Homo sapiens: one gene and its partner. The protein of the gene in region 1 interacts with the protein of each later gene in a pairwise test. Each region holds a gene or a part of one and is shown on either strand. Other genes may lie near its edges.

Region 1 (9,330 bases):
GGCTGAGGTGGAGGGATCACTTGAGCCTGGGAGGAGGACGTTGCCGTGAGCCAAGATCACGCCACTGCGCTCCAGCCTGGGCAACAGAGCAAGGCCTCATCTCAAATTAAAAAAAAAAAAAAGCGCAGGGCTCACTCTGTTGTCTGGGTTGGTCTCCAACTCTTGGGCTCAAGTGATCCTCCTGTCTTGGCCTCCCAAAGCCTTGGGGTTATAGGCATGAGCCACTGTGCCCGGTTCCTCTTCTTAAAATGATGCCAGTCATCAGATTTAGGCCATCGTGGTCCAGTACAACTGTTTCTTAACTAATTATGTGTGCAAAAGCCCATTTCCAAATAAGGCCACATTCTGAGGATCCTGGTGGACCTGAATTTTGAGGGGACTCCGTTCAACCCACTTCACAGCTCCTGCAGAGTTTTTCCTACACCCAATCCTGGGCTCCTCACCATTATTCCACACAGATGGGATGGAAGCTCCAGCAGGAGCTGTGCCAGGTGACAAAGCTGAGTGACAGACACCATGCTTTACTTCGAATCTCCCATCTGCTCTTTCAACCAAGCTCATCTTGTTGGGGCCACCAATCGGCACCTCCTTGCCTTAAAATGTGATTGCCAGCTGGGTGCTCACACCTGTAATCCCAGCACTTTGGGAGGCGGAGACAGGTGGATCACTTGAAGTCAGGAGTTTGAGACCAGCCTGGCCAACATGGTGAAACCTTGTCTCTACTAAAAATACAAAAATTAGCTGGGTGTGTGGGCGCATGCCTATATTCCCAGCTACTTGGAGACTGAGGCAGGAGAATTTCTTGAAACCTTTTTTTTTTTTTTTTTTTGAGGTGGAGTCTCTGTCGCCCAGGCTGGAGTGCAGTGGCGAGATCTCGGCTCATTGCAAGCTCCGCCTCCTGGTTGAACCCATTAAAAAAAAATAAAAATATATTAATATAACTCCCATATGCAGTCATTCAATGAATTTGTATTGGCCTCTAAACTGGGCATGGCTGGATGTAGAATCTATGGATGTGGCTAGATGGAATACACCTGGTTATGGAGGCACCTGCAGGTATTTTGGTGATCTTCTCCAAAGGATCTTTTGCTTTGCTGAGACGCCTGATCTTCCTGTCAATGTGAAGGTAGCTGCTGGAGGCTTGTGAACAGCAGTCAATGGTAGAGAAAAAATGTGGGTAAAGGCCAAGCGTGTGGCTCACATCTATAATCCCAGCACTTTGGGAGGCCGAGGCAGGAGGATCACTTGAGGTCAGGAGTTCAAGACCAGCCTGGCCAACATGGTGAAACCCTGCCTCTACTAAAAATACAAAAATTAGCTGGGTGTGGTGGCATATGCTCATAGTCTCAGCTACTTGGGAGGCTGAGGCAGGACAATTGCCTGAACCTGGGAAATGGAAGTTGCAGTGAGCTGAGATCATGCTACTACACTCTAGCCTGGGTGACAGAGTGAGACTCCATCTCAAAAAAAAAAAAAAAAAAAAAAAAAAAAAAGCAGGTACGTTCCTACAAACTCACCCTCATCAGTTGAAAGAGAAAAAGACTCAAAGCTTGTAACTGCAGTTTTGGACGCATGATCAGGCCATAGCAGGGAATCCCATCTTCCAGCAGATGGTTCTCCAAGATTGTGGTCCACCTGACAAATGAAATCACGTAGGCACTGCCGAGTCCTCAGGGGCCGGTGTGATGAGAATGGCTACAACTCAATCATTATGCAACTTATCTCAAAGCCTGTCATGGTTGCCACCCAGTCTGACCTCTGATATCCTGGAGCCAAGGTCCTCACCCATCATGTGAATTTGCATGTGAGGGAGGGTGAGGAGGAGACACTGAGGCAGGCAAGGCATTCTGCAAGCTTTTGCAGAGTTTTCATGGACACATTCTGATTCCCACTGTGTCCAGGTGGGAGTTCTGTACACATCACAGATGGAAAAAAGAAACTCTCTGTGGATTTGGCAGCACCCTGGATTGGATGTTTGAAGAAAGCTATTGCATCTGCCCCGTATCTTCTGTGAATCGGGTACCTTTATGCTTCTGGGAGGTCAAGAAGAACCCAGAACCCTCCAGTGACTTCCCTTTGGGTCTTGGCATTATGAGAAGATGGTTAACCTCCTTTATAGAACTCTCCTTCACATCCAATCCTTCAGAAAGCCTAATTGATCCCATCTTCTTAACCCAACCCCTCCCCTGGACATCGTTCCTAAGCCCCTTAAAGAAACAGATGGCGGCTGGGCACGGTGGCTCACGCCTGTAATCCCAGCACTTTTGGGAGGCCAAGGCATGTGAATCATGAGGTCAGGAGTTCGAGACCAGCCTGGCCAATATGGTGAAACCCTGTCTCTACTAAAAATACAAAAATCAGCTGGGCATGGTGGTAATCCCAGCTCCACTGGAGGCTGAGGTAGGAGAATTGCTTGAACCCCGGGAGGCAAAGGTTGCAGTGATCCGAGATCGCACCATTGCACTCTAGTCTGGGTGACAAAGCGAGACTCCGTCTCAAAAAAAAAAAAAAAGAAAAGAAAAGAAAAGATATGGATGGCATATCCTTGTACCTCCAGGGCCTGACACACAGTGCTGGCACCACAGCCCCAGTCCCCCGGGGTTGATGGCATGATTCACTCCCTGACCTGGAGACTGGGGAGGCTTGTCAGCTTATAGGTTTCCACAGCAGGCAATGTGGCCGAATTGCTTCCAGAGAAGTAGGGAGGTGAGTATGACCATTACTTGTGTCTAAAAATCCGACGTGACTAACTTACAAACACATAAGTTACCACAAATGATTTAGGGAGGAGGAAAGAAGTGCAGACAGGCAAGCTTTCAGATCGTTTCAGGAAACCAGGAAGCAGGGAGCACAGCGTTGCAGCCAGCAAGGGAAGACGGAAGCTGTGAGTCCTGGCTCTGAGGGCCTCCCATCCAGTTGGGCTGATGGATGAGACAGGTACAGTCTGTGCTGGGCCATCGTGAGGCTTGCAGAGGGTAGTGCCAGGGTCACACAAGGCGTCATGGCCTCAGAATTCTGAGACCTGGTTTTCCATCTGAACTCATCACCCTTAGTGGGAGACCTAGGGTGCGTTTCTCTTCAATCCTGGGTTTCACCTCTCTAAACAAGGGACAATAGTATCTACCTCAGAGGGTTGTGGCAATGACCAAATGTGTCACAGGTGAAAATGTCCAGTAGTTTCTGGCATTTATGACGTGTTCGGTCAATGTTAGTTCACTATTGTTATCCCATTTACTAAGCGAATGCATGTGACACACCATGCGTTTCTGAACCTCGTATGTGAGAGTGCCTGGCATAGAATTGATGTTCATTAAAGGTTTATTTTTTAAATTTTTAGATAAACTTATTTTGAAATAGTTTTAGACTTGAAGAGTTGCAGAAATACTAGCGAGTTTCCCTGTATCCTACATCCAGCTTCCCCTAATTTTTTTTCCCCCAAGATGGAGTCCTGCTCTGTTGCCCAGGCTGGAGTGCAGTGGCATGATCTCGGTTCACTGCAAACTCCGTCTCCTGGATTCAAGTGATTCTTGTGCCTCAGCCTCCTGAGTAGCTGGGATTACAGGCGCACACCACCATGCCCAACTAATTTCTGTATTTTTAGTAGAGACGGGGGTTTCACCATGCTGGCCAGGCTGGTCTTGAACTCCTAACCTCAGGTGGTCTGTCTGCCTCAGCCTCCCAAAGTGCTGGGATTACAGGTGTGAGCCACTGCACAGGGCCCAGCTTCCCCTAAAAATGTTAACGTCTTACCTAACCATAGTAAGAGGATCAGAACCAGGAAATTGCAGATCTTATGTGAATTTTGCCCGCTCTCCTGCTACTGTCCTTTCCTGTTCCATGTTCCCAACCAGCATCCCATGTTCCATTTAGTTGTTGTATCTATCCCCTTAGGGACGATTCCTAGATTGTGACAGTTTCTCAGTCTTTGTCTTTCAAGACCCAAAGTGTCCAAGGACACTTTTGATGGGTACTGGTTAATCACTTTGTAGAACAGGTCTCAATCTGGGTTTGTCTGGTGTTTTCTTGCGATTGGATTGAGATTACACACTTCTGCAGGAATACCACCACAATATGTTGCTTTTAGTTTTTTCCTCCTTTATTGTGGTAAAATACACTCAACATAACATTTACCATTTAAACCACTTTATTTTATTTTATTATTATTTTTTGAGATGGAGTTTCACTCTTGTTGCCCAGGCTGGAGTGTAATGGTGCGAACTCAGCTCACCACAACCTCCGCCTCCCGGGTTCAAGCAATTCTCCTGCCTCGGCCTCTCGAGTAGCTGGGATTACAGGCATGTGCCACCACGTCCGGCTAATTTTTGTATTTTTAGTAGAGATGGGGTTTCTCCGTGTTGGTCAGGCTGGTCTCGAACTCCCGACCTCAGGTGATCCGCCCACCTCGGCCTCCCAAAGTGCTGGGATTACAGGCGTGAGCCACCGCTCCCGGCCTAAACCACTTTAAAGTGTATGATTCAAGGGCAGTATGTAGATTCATCCTGTTGGATCATTTCTAGACTTTTTCATCATCCTAAAACGAAACCCCAAGCTGCTTATCTTCCTCCCCTAGCACCTGGCAACCTCCAATCTGTGTCGCCTCTACGGATTTGCCAATTCGAGACATTTCATCTGGATGGAATCATACGCTATGTGGCCTTTTTTGTTTGGCTTCTTTCACTAGCATAACGTTTCCCGGGTTCCTCCACACTGCAGCATGCATCGGTGCTCCATTCCTTTTTGTAGCCGAATAATATTCCATTGCATGGACAGATCACATTTTACTTTTATTTTCTAATTCAACAGTGAGACCTGGTGTGGGCCCCGGCGCTGGGCCTGGGAGGCGAGGGAGGGGATGGAAGAGAGCCCCGTGACTGGCAGGAGGCACTGTGGAGTGTGGGGAGAAGGGGTCGGGATCTGCATGCTAGAGAGAATAGGATTTTATTTACACGTGGCAATGTTTATGGAGGCCAATGCACAACTGCCATTATGGGACGCGGACTCCTTTGAAAGTCTCATTTGTGTAAAAGGAAAAGCAGTAGTTCATGAGGAGGGGGAGAAGGGCTCAAGGACAGCAAGGTAAACTACCCCTGGGGCGGGGGAACGTGGTCGTCGGTGGGCCCAGCTTTGGAGGCTAGGCCCGTGAAGGTCGCCCCGTGAGCAGGTCCAGGGCAGGCCGAGTGCCCCGGGGCCCGCATTCATTGCTTACAGAGCAAGGGGAGCCTCCCGGGAGGGAAATCCAACGGTTGGAAACTTCGATTTATCCCAAAGGCGTGCCGAGTGGGAAGGCAACATTTTGATTTCCCAAACGTTGCGGCCAGCGGCTTCTTCCACGGCAGGCGCCTTCAGGTCTCTCCGCAGGGTCGGGACCCCGGGCGGCGCGCGGCCTCTGGGACGCCGAGGGAGGGCGGGCCCACAGCGCCCGGAGCGCGGACAGCGGCCACAGCCCGCCGCCTAGAAGCGGCGCCGCCCGGGGCGGGGGGCGGAGCCGAGCGCGCGCCCCGCCCCGCCCCGCCCCGCCCCGCAGCCCCAGCCCAGCGCGCGCACCAAGGCGGGGCGGCGCGCGGCCCGTGCGCGTGTCCGGGGCCAGGAGGCGGTGGCGGCGAGCGCGGGCCGCGCGTGCGCGCTGCGGCTGGGCGAGGGGCGGCGCGGGCGCGCGTCTGTCAGTGACAGCGGGCGGGGCAGGGGCCGGAGATGGTGGCGGCGGCAGCTCTTCCGACATGAGGCAGCGGCCGCGGGGGACACGGCGGCGGGCGCGGCGGCGGCCGCATCTCTAGCTCGGGGAGGCGGCCCCCGGCGTGGGCGCGGGCGGGCGGGCGTCCCGGCCGGCGTCGCGGGAGCCCGGCTCTGCGGCAGCGTCTGCACCGCCGCCCGGCGAGGGGCCCGCGTCCGTGGTTCCACGCGCTCGGTCCCGGGACAGCTGCGGCCGCGGCGGGAGCGGCGGCGCACTCGGGGGGAAGCAGGCCCCACTAGACGGGCCGCGCCGACGGGCTCCGCGCACTCGCAGCCCGGGGCGCCCCCACCCCCAGCGCCCGCCGCCGCGGGCAGGGCCGGCCCGGAGCGCGGGGGGCGGCCGGGGAGCGCGAGCCGGGGGCGCCCGCCGAAGCTCGCTGCTCCGGGTCGGGGTCCGGGCCCGGGGCCGGCCGCGCGCCGCCTTTGACGCATCGGAGCGCGGCTCCTGCAGGATGGAGGGCTCCGCGCCGCCAGCGGAGTTGTTTGTGCGCAGGCGGCTCGCGGGGCTGGGAGCGCTCAAGGTCTGAACTTCCCTCCGGAGCCGCAGCTGGAGGAGGCGAGCGCGCGAGGAGGAGAAGCCGCGCGGCGCGGAGGCCACCCTCGGGGCGAGAGGCGCGGAAGGCGAGCGAGCAAAGCGGTCCCGGAGCCACGGCGGCCACGCGGCGGGGACCCCCGGGCGTTCTAGGTCCGTCCCGAGCGGTTCTCGTGCGCCTCGAAGGTGGGGGCGGTGGGGGCGGTGGGAGCACCGCTGAGCCGGGAACCACAGGAACAGATGGTGCCTGTCCAGGTCGCGTGCTGGAGCCGCCCCTTAGGACAGGAGCAGGTCCCGGGCCTCTAGGCGTGCATGCCTAGGTGGGAGCGCCGCTAACTCTCCCCGTTTTGCTGGCAGGTACTGGTGACCCCGGCCGGGGCAGGCCCCGGGACTCGACAACATGGCTTCCCCACCCCACCAGCAGCTGCTGCATCACCACAGCACCGAGGTGAGCTGCGACTCCAGCGGGGACAGCAACAGCGTGCGCGTCAAGATCAACCCCAAGCAGCTGTCCTCCAACAGCCACCCCAAGCACTGCAAATACAGCATCTCCTCTAGCTGCAGCAGCTCTGGGGACTCCGGGGGCGTCCCCCGGCGAGTGGGCGGCGGAGGCCGGCTGCGCAGGCAGAAGAAGCTGCCCCAGCTGTTCGAGAGGGCCTCCAGCCGCTGGTGGGACCCCAAGTTCGACTCGGTGAACCTGGAGGAGGCCTGCCTGGAGCGCTGCTTCCCGCAGACCCAGCGCCGGTTCCGGTATGCGCTCTTCTACATCGGCTTCGCCTGCCTTCTGTGGAGCATCTATTTTGCGGTCCACATGAGATCCAGACTGATCGTCATGGTCGCCCCCGCGCTGTGCTTCCTCCTGGTGTGTGTGGGCTTCTTTCTGTTTACCTTCACCAAGCTGTACGCCCGGCATTACGCGTGGACCTCGCTGGCTCTCACCCTGCTGGTGTTCGCCCTGACCCTGGCTGCGCAGTTCCAGGTCTTGACGCCTGTCTCAGGACGCGGCGACAGCTCCAACCTTACGGCCACAGCCCGGCCCACAGATACTTGCTTATCTCAAGTGGGGAGCTTCTCCATGTGCATCGAAGTGCTCTTTTTGCTCTATACCGTCATGCACTTACCTTTGTACCTGAGTTTGTGTCTGGGGGTGGCCTACTCTGTCCTTTTCGAGACCTTTGGCTACCATTTCCGGGATGAAGCCTGCTTCCCCTCGCCCGGAGCCGGGGCCCTGCACTGGGAGCTGCTGAGCAGGGGGCTGCTCCACGGCTGCATCCACGCCATCGGGGTCCACCTGTTCGTCATGTCCCAGGTGAGGTCCAGGAGCACCTTCCTCAAGGTGGGGCAATCCATTATGCACGGGAAGGACCTGGAAGTGGAAAAAGCCCTCAAAGAGAGGATGATTCATTCCGTGATGCCAAGAATCATAGCCGATGACTTAATGAAGCAGGGAGATGAGGAGAGTGAGAATTCTGTCAAGAGGCATGCCACCTCGAGCCCCAAGAACAGGAAGAAAAAGTCTTCCATCCAAAAAGCTCCTATAGCCTTCCGCCCTTTTAAGATGCAGCAGATCGAAGAAGTCAGTATTTTATTTGCAGATATCGTGGGCTTCACCAAGATGAGTGCCAACAAGTCTGCCCACGCCCTGGTGGGTCTCCTGAACGATCTGTTCGGTCGCTTCGACCGCCTGTGTGAGGAGACCAAGTGTGAGAAAATCAGCACCCTGGGAGACTGTTACTACTGCGTGGCGGGCTGTCCCGAGCCCCGGGCCGACCATGCCTACTGCTGCATCGAGATGGGCCTGGGCATGATCAAGGCCATCGAGCAGTTCTGCCAGGAGAAGAAGGAGATGGTGAACATGAGAGTCGGGGTGCACACGGGCACCGTCCTTTGCGGCATCCTGGGCATGAGGAGGTTTAAATTTGACGTGTGGTCCAACGATGTGAACCTGGCCAATCTCATGGAGCAGCTGGGAGTGGCCGGCAAAGTTCACATTTCTGAGGCCACCGCAAAATACTTAGATGACCGGTACGAAATGGAAGATGGGAAAGTTATTGAACGGCTGGGCCAGAGCGTGGTTGCTGACCAGTTGAAAGGTATGTGCACTGCTTTACCTCGGCATCCCCCCTCCCTGATCCTGATTGTATTAAATTAAAAAAAAAAGCTTCCAGCCTCAGTGTCTGCAGACAGCTCAGGTATCTCAGAATGCCTTACCATGGGGGGATCTCAGGGTCAGTGTGACTTTTCTTTCAGCGGGTCAAATATCACAGATCTGTTCACACTGCAGAAAGGGACGCTGTGCAGAGATGACCTAGACGCGACCTTTAGAAGGAAGGAGAACTTTGAACGTGCATAACCACTGGTTGGCTGAAATGTGGGGGCACGTCCGGTGAATGTAAGGGTATGGAGCCCTTCAGCATTCAGCACTGTTTAGCACTTAAGGAAATTGCCTTTGCATTCATTTGGTCACCCTGAAGTCCCATCCAAATGTTTCTCTCTGCCCTTTTTGCGAAAACGTGGAGAATAAAATCTTTCTCCTCTCTAGGCCTCACTTTGCTTATCCTCAAAATAGGGATAGGAAGTCGGCGCAGTCCTGCAGGTCTCTGGAGAATTAGACGGAGTTACTTACCTCTGAGTACACACTGTCTTTTATCTAGGTCTTTTTTTTTTTTTAAAAAAAGTTTGCATTTTCAGCTTTCAGCCATCATTTGTTTAAGGATATTTTATTATCATAGTATTTGCCTTAAGTGAAGAGCTTCATATTGAGCTTCTCCAGCCACCAGGTGATTTGGAAGGGAGAAACGTACCTGCCGGAGAGCTGGTATTCCCCTCCCTCATCCTCTCAGGTTTGGATCTGGTGCCTGGTCCCTGGTTTGAAGCTCCTTACTGCTATTCTTGATGTTTTTACTGGGCTGCTTGTTTTTTCTAATATAGGACAAAAGTCTTTGAGATCTGGAAAATGATATTAAAATAAGTAGGACGAAAAAGAAAGATTTTAAGTAATCTGCTACATTTCTTCCCCCACTTCCTCCTTTTTAAACAGTCCTTATGTTTTACTAAAATCTTCAGGA
Region 2 (7,794 bases), on another chromosome or scaffold:
AGCAGCCAAGCCCTCCTCAGATTCTGGCCCAAACTCCTCTGCAGACTCATCCCCTCTCACAGCCAGCCCATGAGTTCCATGGGGGCTGGTCCTTTTCTGCAAACCCTGTAAGGCCAGGCCCCATGGCACAGCAGTGTTGGACGGGTGAATGGCCACACCATCTCGCACGACTCTGGCACAGTCGACTTGCTGTTCCCCCTTTTCATAACTCAATGTCTGTGCCCATTCCACTCTCTTGGCCCAGATGTCTTCTTGACCTGGTTAACTCCTGCTTATCCTTAAACTCAGCTTAAGCACCACCTTCCCCTGGAAGCCTTCCCTGACCCCAAGGCTGGGTGACATCTTCCAATACTGGGCAACCACAGCCCTCAGAGCCTACCCCTCCCACTCTACTCATCAACACGACAGACTCATGTCAGCTTCCTTGCCCACCTTCCCCAGGGCTGGGTGGAGAGACAGCAGAGCAAGCAGCAGGTGCTCAACAGGTGTGTAGGGGAAGGGAGGGAGGGTGGGAAAAAGGAAGGGTGAGCACCAGGAAGAATGCTGCGGACGGAATAGCCCCATCACAGAAACCTACGACAAACTAAACAAGAATAAAGCACTACAGCCCAGTATATCAATATACCACTCATCAATTATTACTGAGGAAAACTAGCAGGAAGTAGTGGGAAAACACTTTTTAATGAATTAGAGGGGAATCAGGTTACTCTTTGTTGTGTCCTCTCCTCCCCTCCAGATGTGGGTTGGGGTGGGGGCTGGAGAGGAAGAGAAGCTTTGGAAGGTTGAGTGGGCAGGGGCACTTGAAAACAGGGAGCTCTCATAGGTTCCTCTGGCCTTGGGGGACTAAAGACCACTTCCTCTGGGGTAACCTCCAACTGCTGATGTGAATCAACTAGGACACATTCCCACAAAGCTGTTAAGAACATGTCCTGTGTCAAGACAGGGGGATAATGAGGGCCTCCCACTGTCCTACTGAGTCATCTGGCCCAGTTCCCAAAGGTAGGAACAGAAGCAGGGATTCAGAACAGATGATCTCCTGGGGATGAAGACGACTTTTGGCTGGAGCCTTCTTAGCACAGCATTTCCTTCTAAAGAAAACACCCCCACTAGCCCCTCAATATCCACTCATTCTTTCTTGTTAAGAGAATCCTGATTTTTGGGGGGAGGAGGGGGCAGACAGTGTAGCAGAGACTGCCAGCTAATTGTGATACCCATCTCCTTTCCCTCCTGGGCATGTGGCTGGACCACATTTCCTCCCCTTGGAAGGTATGCTCACACGACTGAGCCCTGGCCAGTGGAATGTCAGGGCCAGTAGTTCAGCACCTCTGAGCCTGGCCCACAAAATCCTCCCACACACCATCCTCCATGTTCCTTCCTCTTCAGCTGAGTGAGGCAAAGGAGCATGGCAGCCTTGAGAGCCTGAGTCCCTGAATATCCTCTTGGAGGAAAGCCCCAAGCAGAAACAGCCATTTTGGACTGTGTGTGAGCAAAAAGTGAATGCCTACCATATTTGAACCATTAAACATACTTTGTTTAAGCAGTGAGCCTTCCTCAGTGTGCCCCACTACACACTCACATGGCCCGTTTAACTGGGGGCAACCCATGTGATACAGTTCTGGCCATGAAATGTCAGGGGACATCTGGTTTGCTGGTGTTTTTTGCCATCATGAAGGAAAGGCCAAGAGAGTAACACAAGTGTCAGTACAGACAGATGTCAGCTGCTGAAACCAACACCAGCAATCACCTATCTTCACGCATTTTGTTACATAAGATAAACAAACCCCTATTTACTTAAGCCACTAAGCCAGGGCTTTCTGCTACTTTCAGCCAGACACATTCATAACTGATATGCTTTGCAACCACTCATCATTCATTCACCCAACTTTTATTGAGGCCTGTTTCATGCCAGTCCTTGTGCTAAAGGCCAAAGCTTTACAGATGAGCTGGGTATGGTCCCTGCTTTCTAGGGGCTCCCTATCAAGCTGGAAGAGAGGCCCATGAGCAGACAATCAGAATACACAGGGAATGGATGCTGTGGTGGCACATGATGATGTCCCAGGAGAGTGTGAGCATTGGGCAGTGGGCTGGCACTGAGGTGAGGCATTCCCAACTCCCCTTCGGGCATTTGGCACACAGAGTAAATAAACACTTCTCAAGCTAAAAAGCAAGTAAAAAGAACTCGGGATCCTCAGCCAAGCCAACTGCAATTACTTAGTGTAAGTAGAGTCGTTAAACACCATCAATTAATGCAGCTGTTTCAAGATAATCAGCAGTCATTAGAGCAAGATGCACAAGAGAAAAAAAATCATATGCTGCTAACTTAGCAATGCTAGAAATTATGTGAACCGAGGATGAGACAGGCTTGCTTAGATCTTCCTGCCTGCTGACGTTAGCCACCTCCCAAAATATACTTTCTTTCTCAAAGAAGACAGTGATTTTTCACTTTGAAGACAGAGCCAAAAAAAATCAACCATCCATGCCATGACCTTCGACCATAAATGCCCAAGCTTTGATTTTTCAGGTCTGTGTTTCCATTAGGGACTGCAACGGAGACAGACACACTGGCGACAAAAGAGGTTCCAGTCTGGGAAATCAAGAGATGATCATGACCAGAGAAGTCAGAGCACCTGGGGAGCCATTTGTAAAACAGAGAAAGGGTTTTCCCCCTTTTACCTTAATTCTCCCTACATACAAAAGGTTGGCATTATTTGCTGTTTCTTTGTTTTACAAGTGTGGGGCAAGGTTTTTTTTTTTTTTTTAAGACAAAACTTCATTTAAAATTTCCAGGACATAGGTCTACCCTTGAACAACACGGATTTGAACTGAGCAGGTCGACTTACACGTAGGTTCTCTTCCGCCTCTGCCACCCCTGAGACAGCAAGACCAACCCCTCCTCTTCCTCCTTCTCAGCCTACTCAATGTGAAGACAATGAGGATAAAACCTTTATGATGATCCACTTCCACTTAACGAATAGGAAATGTTTTCTCTTCCTTATGATTTTCTTAATAACATTTTCATTTCTCTAGCTTATTGTGAGAATACAGCATATAATACATACAACATACAAAATATGTGTTAACTGACTGCATTATCAGTAAGGCTTCTGGCTAACAGTAGGCTATGTATAGTTACAATATTGGGGATTTAAAAGTTATACTTGGATTTTCAACTGTGGGGGGCCATGGTGGGGGGAATCAGTGCTCCTAACCCCTGAGTTGTTCAAGGGTCAACCATAGTTTAAAGTAAATAAAAATAAGCTGGTTGCCACTAAGATAACTGATGACTGGTTTTCCAGTCTGACTGCTGACTTATCGGTATGAAGTATTCCAGTGTATGTTGAGTACAAGCTGGGCTAATCACGCTCAAACGAGGCAGAGAAGCACTCGAGTTCCTGAAGCAGCAATCACAGAAGGATTTTCTGGTCGACAGCCCATTGCTGGAGGCCGTGCCAGCTCCGTGATGGCAGGTGCTAGTCGGGCAGGCTGCCATGCTGGAGCCTCTCTGTAGGACGCACAGAGCAAGCAAAGCGAGGTCTGAGGAGGAAGGTCCTCTCTTTCCAGCACCAGTTAGGAAACCCATGCCCGTCAACATAGTTTCTTTGGGTCAAGAAGTTTCTAGCTACGGCAGACACAGGAAATGCAGTGTTCTGGCTTCCTGCCTCTGGCTAGTCCCCTACCTGCTCTCAGGAGCAGCTGTGCCATTTCTTGCTCAGAGAACTGGGTCTCTGATAGTACCAAAGGTTTCTGGGGCTGCTGAAGAGCCAGTCCAGTCCAAAATAGTAGCCAGGGCAGCATTCTGTCAACCAGGACCAAAAATAGTGTTGGCAAAACCAGGTGACTAAACAGATCTAGGATCTCTTATCATGCTTCCCACTAACAACCTGTGGCCAAGAGTGACAGTTAAAACAACCAGCATGTGTCAGACACAGATGAGTCAAAATGAGTGCCTGTTTCAAAGAGCTGGCAAGGTCACCACCCCATGGTCAGCCCCTTCACAGCCTCTCATGGCTGTAAGTGAGCAAGTGCCTGGAAATCGATCTGCACCGCCATTCATGTCCTTCACCACAAACTGAAATATAATGTCCTCTGTTCCATGAGGACAGAGACTATTATCCTGTATCCATCATCTCAGTGCAGTCAGTTGGCGCCTAAAAGGTAATTTTAAGAAACAAATGAATAGGAATAGCAGCTAACATTTTTAAAGCATGTACCATGTGGTAGGTGCTTTTCTAAGCCCTCATCATGTATTATTATATTTCAGTTTCACAACAGTACCATGAAGTAGGTATTATTATCACCACCCAAATTTTACAAATAAGGAAACTGGCACAGAGAAGTAACTTGTTCAAGGGTACATTGCTAGTAATGGTAGAGCCAGGGTTTAAAGTCAGTTTGGCCTCTGAATGTACACACTCAATCACTGCACTGTGCTGAATACACAACCAACTCAGGTACTCTAGTATTAGGAAGTCATCAACAGAGAACCTCTGACATCTACAAACCTTGAGAAGTCCTTTCAGGTTTCTGGGTGCTACATACAGAGTTTTTGTTTGTTTGTTTGACTTGCAGAAAGTTTTAGAGAAAACCAATGCCTATTTTTATCCCTAAGAATAGGACCACCTACAATTTTCAAAAAACTATGTAACCACATTTGGTTATCAAGCAACGTGGGCAGGGATATCCAGGTTTACATAGTATTTCTCTGCTTATGAGATCTGAATTCTAGAGGAAGCCTTTTAACCATCCCAAGGTCCCATCTCCCCATCTCTAAGCAGATCGCAGGCTTATTGAATCAAATGAGATATGGACAAAGTTGCTTTTTTATATAGTAAGGTACTGTATAAACATAATGCATGATCCTAATAATTAATATAACTTGCATAAAATATTATATACTTATTAATCTATACTTGCCAAATTTTCTATACTTTCAAGATAGTTCATATTTATATCTATGTTTTAAGATTTAAGCTTAATAGTTTATTTCTGTAAGTCCCTCCATTATTATTTCTGAGCTTCCAAAAATTTGTTCTACAACTTTACTAACTTTACGGTAATCCAACTGCCACTTTCATTTTAGAAGCATAAAGCCTTAACAAGACAGTAAATGTTTAATTCTAACTAGATTCTCCTATGTCTGCAGAGAACAAACAGCAAGTAAGAGCTTCATTTTATTTTACGGTTAAAAGCTCAAAATGATACTGCTGGATCTCTGAAGGCCTGAAGGTTGGTGTTAGATCCAAGAATGAGGTAAGCTTAGGAAAGCAAGCTGTGGTTTTGTTGGTTGAAAAGACACATGTCTCTGAATAACTGAGGGGTGGGACAAATAGTATTCAAAATGATTTGTAACTTTAATGTAAATGATGGCTGTAACCACAAACAGAAGTGGAGGAGGAAAGGGGAGAGAGTGGGGGCATCAAAACCAGGTGCAATAATTTTCATCTTAATATGCTTTTTAATCAATATGCTATTGATTACAGCTCTTTCTGAGGAAGCTGGTCACACCCAGGGGCATAAGGGTGGCGAGCAGGTGACAAAAGGATGCCCTGTAAACTGAAACATGAGTGTGTAAATTGGGGAAATGATTCTGCAAATACAAAGAGAATTTTAAAGTTACTACAGTCTCTACTACCACATGTTTGAGTTCCCCCAAACTCTCCTCCACCCTCGAGTACGCAGCTCAGAGGGAGCTCCACTGATGGAGGGAGGGGCAGACGCATGCACAGATGACTGTGGGCCAAGGGAATGAGGTGAAGGGTGCCTCCTGACTGCAGAAACTACTCCCCAAGCCGCCATCCAGTTCTTCTTCCATGCCTTTTTAATCATTAACTTCTTCCAGACTCCTGAGATTGTTCCCGCCATCACTGCAGACTGAACTTTTTCCAAAAGCCAGTGGCTTCCCCAGCCAAAGTCCAAAAAGGGTCAGAGAAGCCTGCTGGTTTTGAGGGTGGAGGATAAACAGGCCAGAGTCTGTGGCTCAGTTAGGTGTTAGTTGGCCAGGGCCCTCCTGCCTTTTGGACTCAGAGCGGACCCTGAAATTCATTCTGGGTTCACGGGTGCCTCCTCGTGGCTGCCATGCAGCATCTCCAGGTTGAGAGGCTCCAATGGGCCGTCGTTTACCTGCAAGGCTGCACAGCAGGTTCAAAAAGAGTCCCTGGGAGATGCTTCTATCAAAAGGCCCACCATCCTACTAGAAAGCTGCTCCCTCTTCTTCACCTCCTAAATACAGGTGCACAGACCTTCCAAGCCACTGCTCCTTTTGTCACTTACCTAGACTCTCCCCTCAGCACCTCAGGTGAGATGAAGTGGCAATGGCTGCAATCTGAAGTGGCCATGGGGGCTCTCCAAGTGGTACCCTGTCTCCCTGGAAGCTTCCTCCATTGGAAAATGGGTGATGTCAAAGGGGACTGGGGCTACAGCTCAGGGCCTATAAATTAAGCCATGGTAAAGTGGCTTCCCAGGCCAAACCCCAGACCAATCTTGCTCAAGCCATTATTTCCAAAAGGGCACACACCTCATTCAAAAACTTCAAACAGCTCAGTGCTCTCCTGCCGTGCTAAGCCCAAGTCTCAGCTGGCTTTCAAGGCCTTCTCAAAACCAGAATGATGGGCCCAGCAAATGGATTTCAGATTCCCATGGGGTCATTTTTCCTATCTCAGTGACTTTGCTCCTAACTGGTAACCCCTACACTGGAATGTGGGCACACTTCCTTATCCACCAACCAGGAACCTTGTCCAGGGACAGGTTCTGGGGCCAAAATCTCCCCCTATGAATTTTCAGGACCTTGAACATTCTCCTATCCTTTCTCCCACCCACCTCTAGATAGTAGTATGTCTCTTTCTCCCTCTCCTCCCTTTCTCTTACTCACAGACTGCAGGCATTAATTAAACCTCTTCTAGAAAACAGATTTTCACCAGCTGCAGGAATTCTGAGCCAGACCTGAAGACAGAGACAATCTGGGTAAGAAAGATAAGTTCGTGACAGCCAGGGGCAGTGCAGGCTCCCACAGCCAAGTGGCAGTCTCAATTTTAGCCCTTTCCAGATTCCCCCACAAAAAAAGGGGGACATGAGGTGTTCCCACCCCCTCAGCATTTGGCTGTACTGCCTGGGGGTGGCCTTTGACAGAGGCACAAGAGCTGGACCTTGCCCCATCTGCCAGTGGGTTATAGCCACCTCCAAGAGACCAAAGCACTGGCCCAAAACACCAACCTCCCTCCCACCAATAGAGCTGCAAGCCACAGTGCCAGAAATGTGCAAGAAGAGGCACTCCCAGCTCGCCACAGGAAGCAACACCCACTGGAGTGGGGATGGTGCAATCTGAAGTGGCCAGTGGGGCTCTGCAAGTGGTACCCTGTCTCCCTGGGAGCTTCCTCCGTCAGTGGGCAGGGATAGGAAATGTTAAAGGGGACTGGGGCTACAGCTCTGGGCACTATAGGTTAAGCTATGGTGGACTCAACCCTCAGCAGACAAACTTAGTAGCTTCCAAGGGCGCCCACCACCACCTACCCCAATTCTTGAATGAAGACAACTGATTTTCTTCATGGAAATCTTGGAGTCCCCACTGAGGTTAACGACCCACCATCAGAGACTGATCCGTAGATTGCACTCACTGCTCCAAACACACACAAAAATGAGTTTGTCTCTGGTGATATGACACATTAAAAAAAAAAAACTGTTGAATTTAAGGGTAACATTTTGAACAGTGTAGCAAAGTGTAGAAAACATTGGTTGTGAACTCAGACTAATTCACCGGGGCATCCATTTTTTTTCCTCACAAACACTGAGTACCCCTAT

What was found.
Region 2: the proteins of ADCY9 (region 1) and PXYLP1 interact in binary tests that used the Homo sapiens proteins (3 or more experiments, as listed by UniProt).

The regions. Positions count from the first base shown.
Region 1 is NC_000016.10:4,112,775-4,122,104, reverse strand, and holds the start of ADCY9 (adenylate cyclase type 9), read left to right. Parts: upstream 1-5,662; 5' UTR 5,663-6,415; intron 6,416-6,619; 5' UTR 6,620-6,662; coding exon 6,663-8,355; intron 8,356-9,330. UniProt on the Homo sapiens protein: Adenylyl cyclase that catalyzes the formation of the signaling molecule cAMP in response to activation of G protein-coupled receptors.
Region 2 is NC_000003.12:141,234,031-141,241,824, reverse strand, and holds part of PXYLP1 (2-phosphoxylose phosphatase 1), read right to left. Parts: intron 7,643-7,794; exon of another isoform or gene 7,507-7,642; intron 6,957-7,506; exon of another isoform or gene 6,865-6,956; intron 6,428-6,864; exon of another isoform or gene 3,678-6,427; intron 1-3,677. UniProt on the Homo sapiens protein: Responsible for the 2-O-dephosphorylation of xylose in the glycosaminoglycan-protein linkage region of proteoglycans thereby regulating the amount of mature glycosaminoglycan (GAG) chains.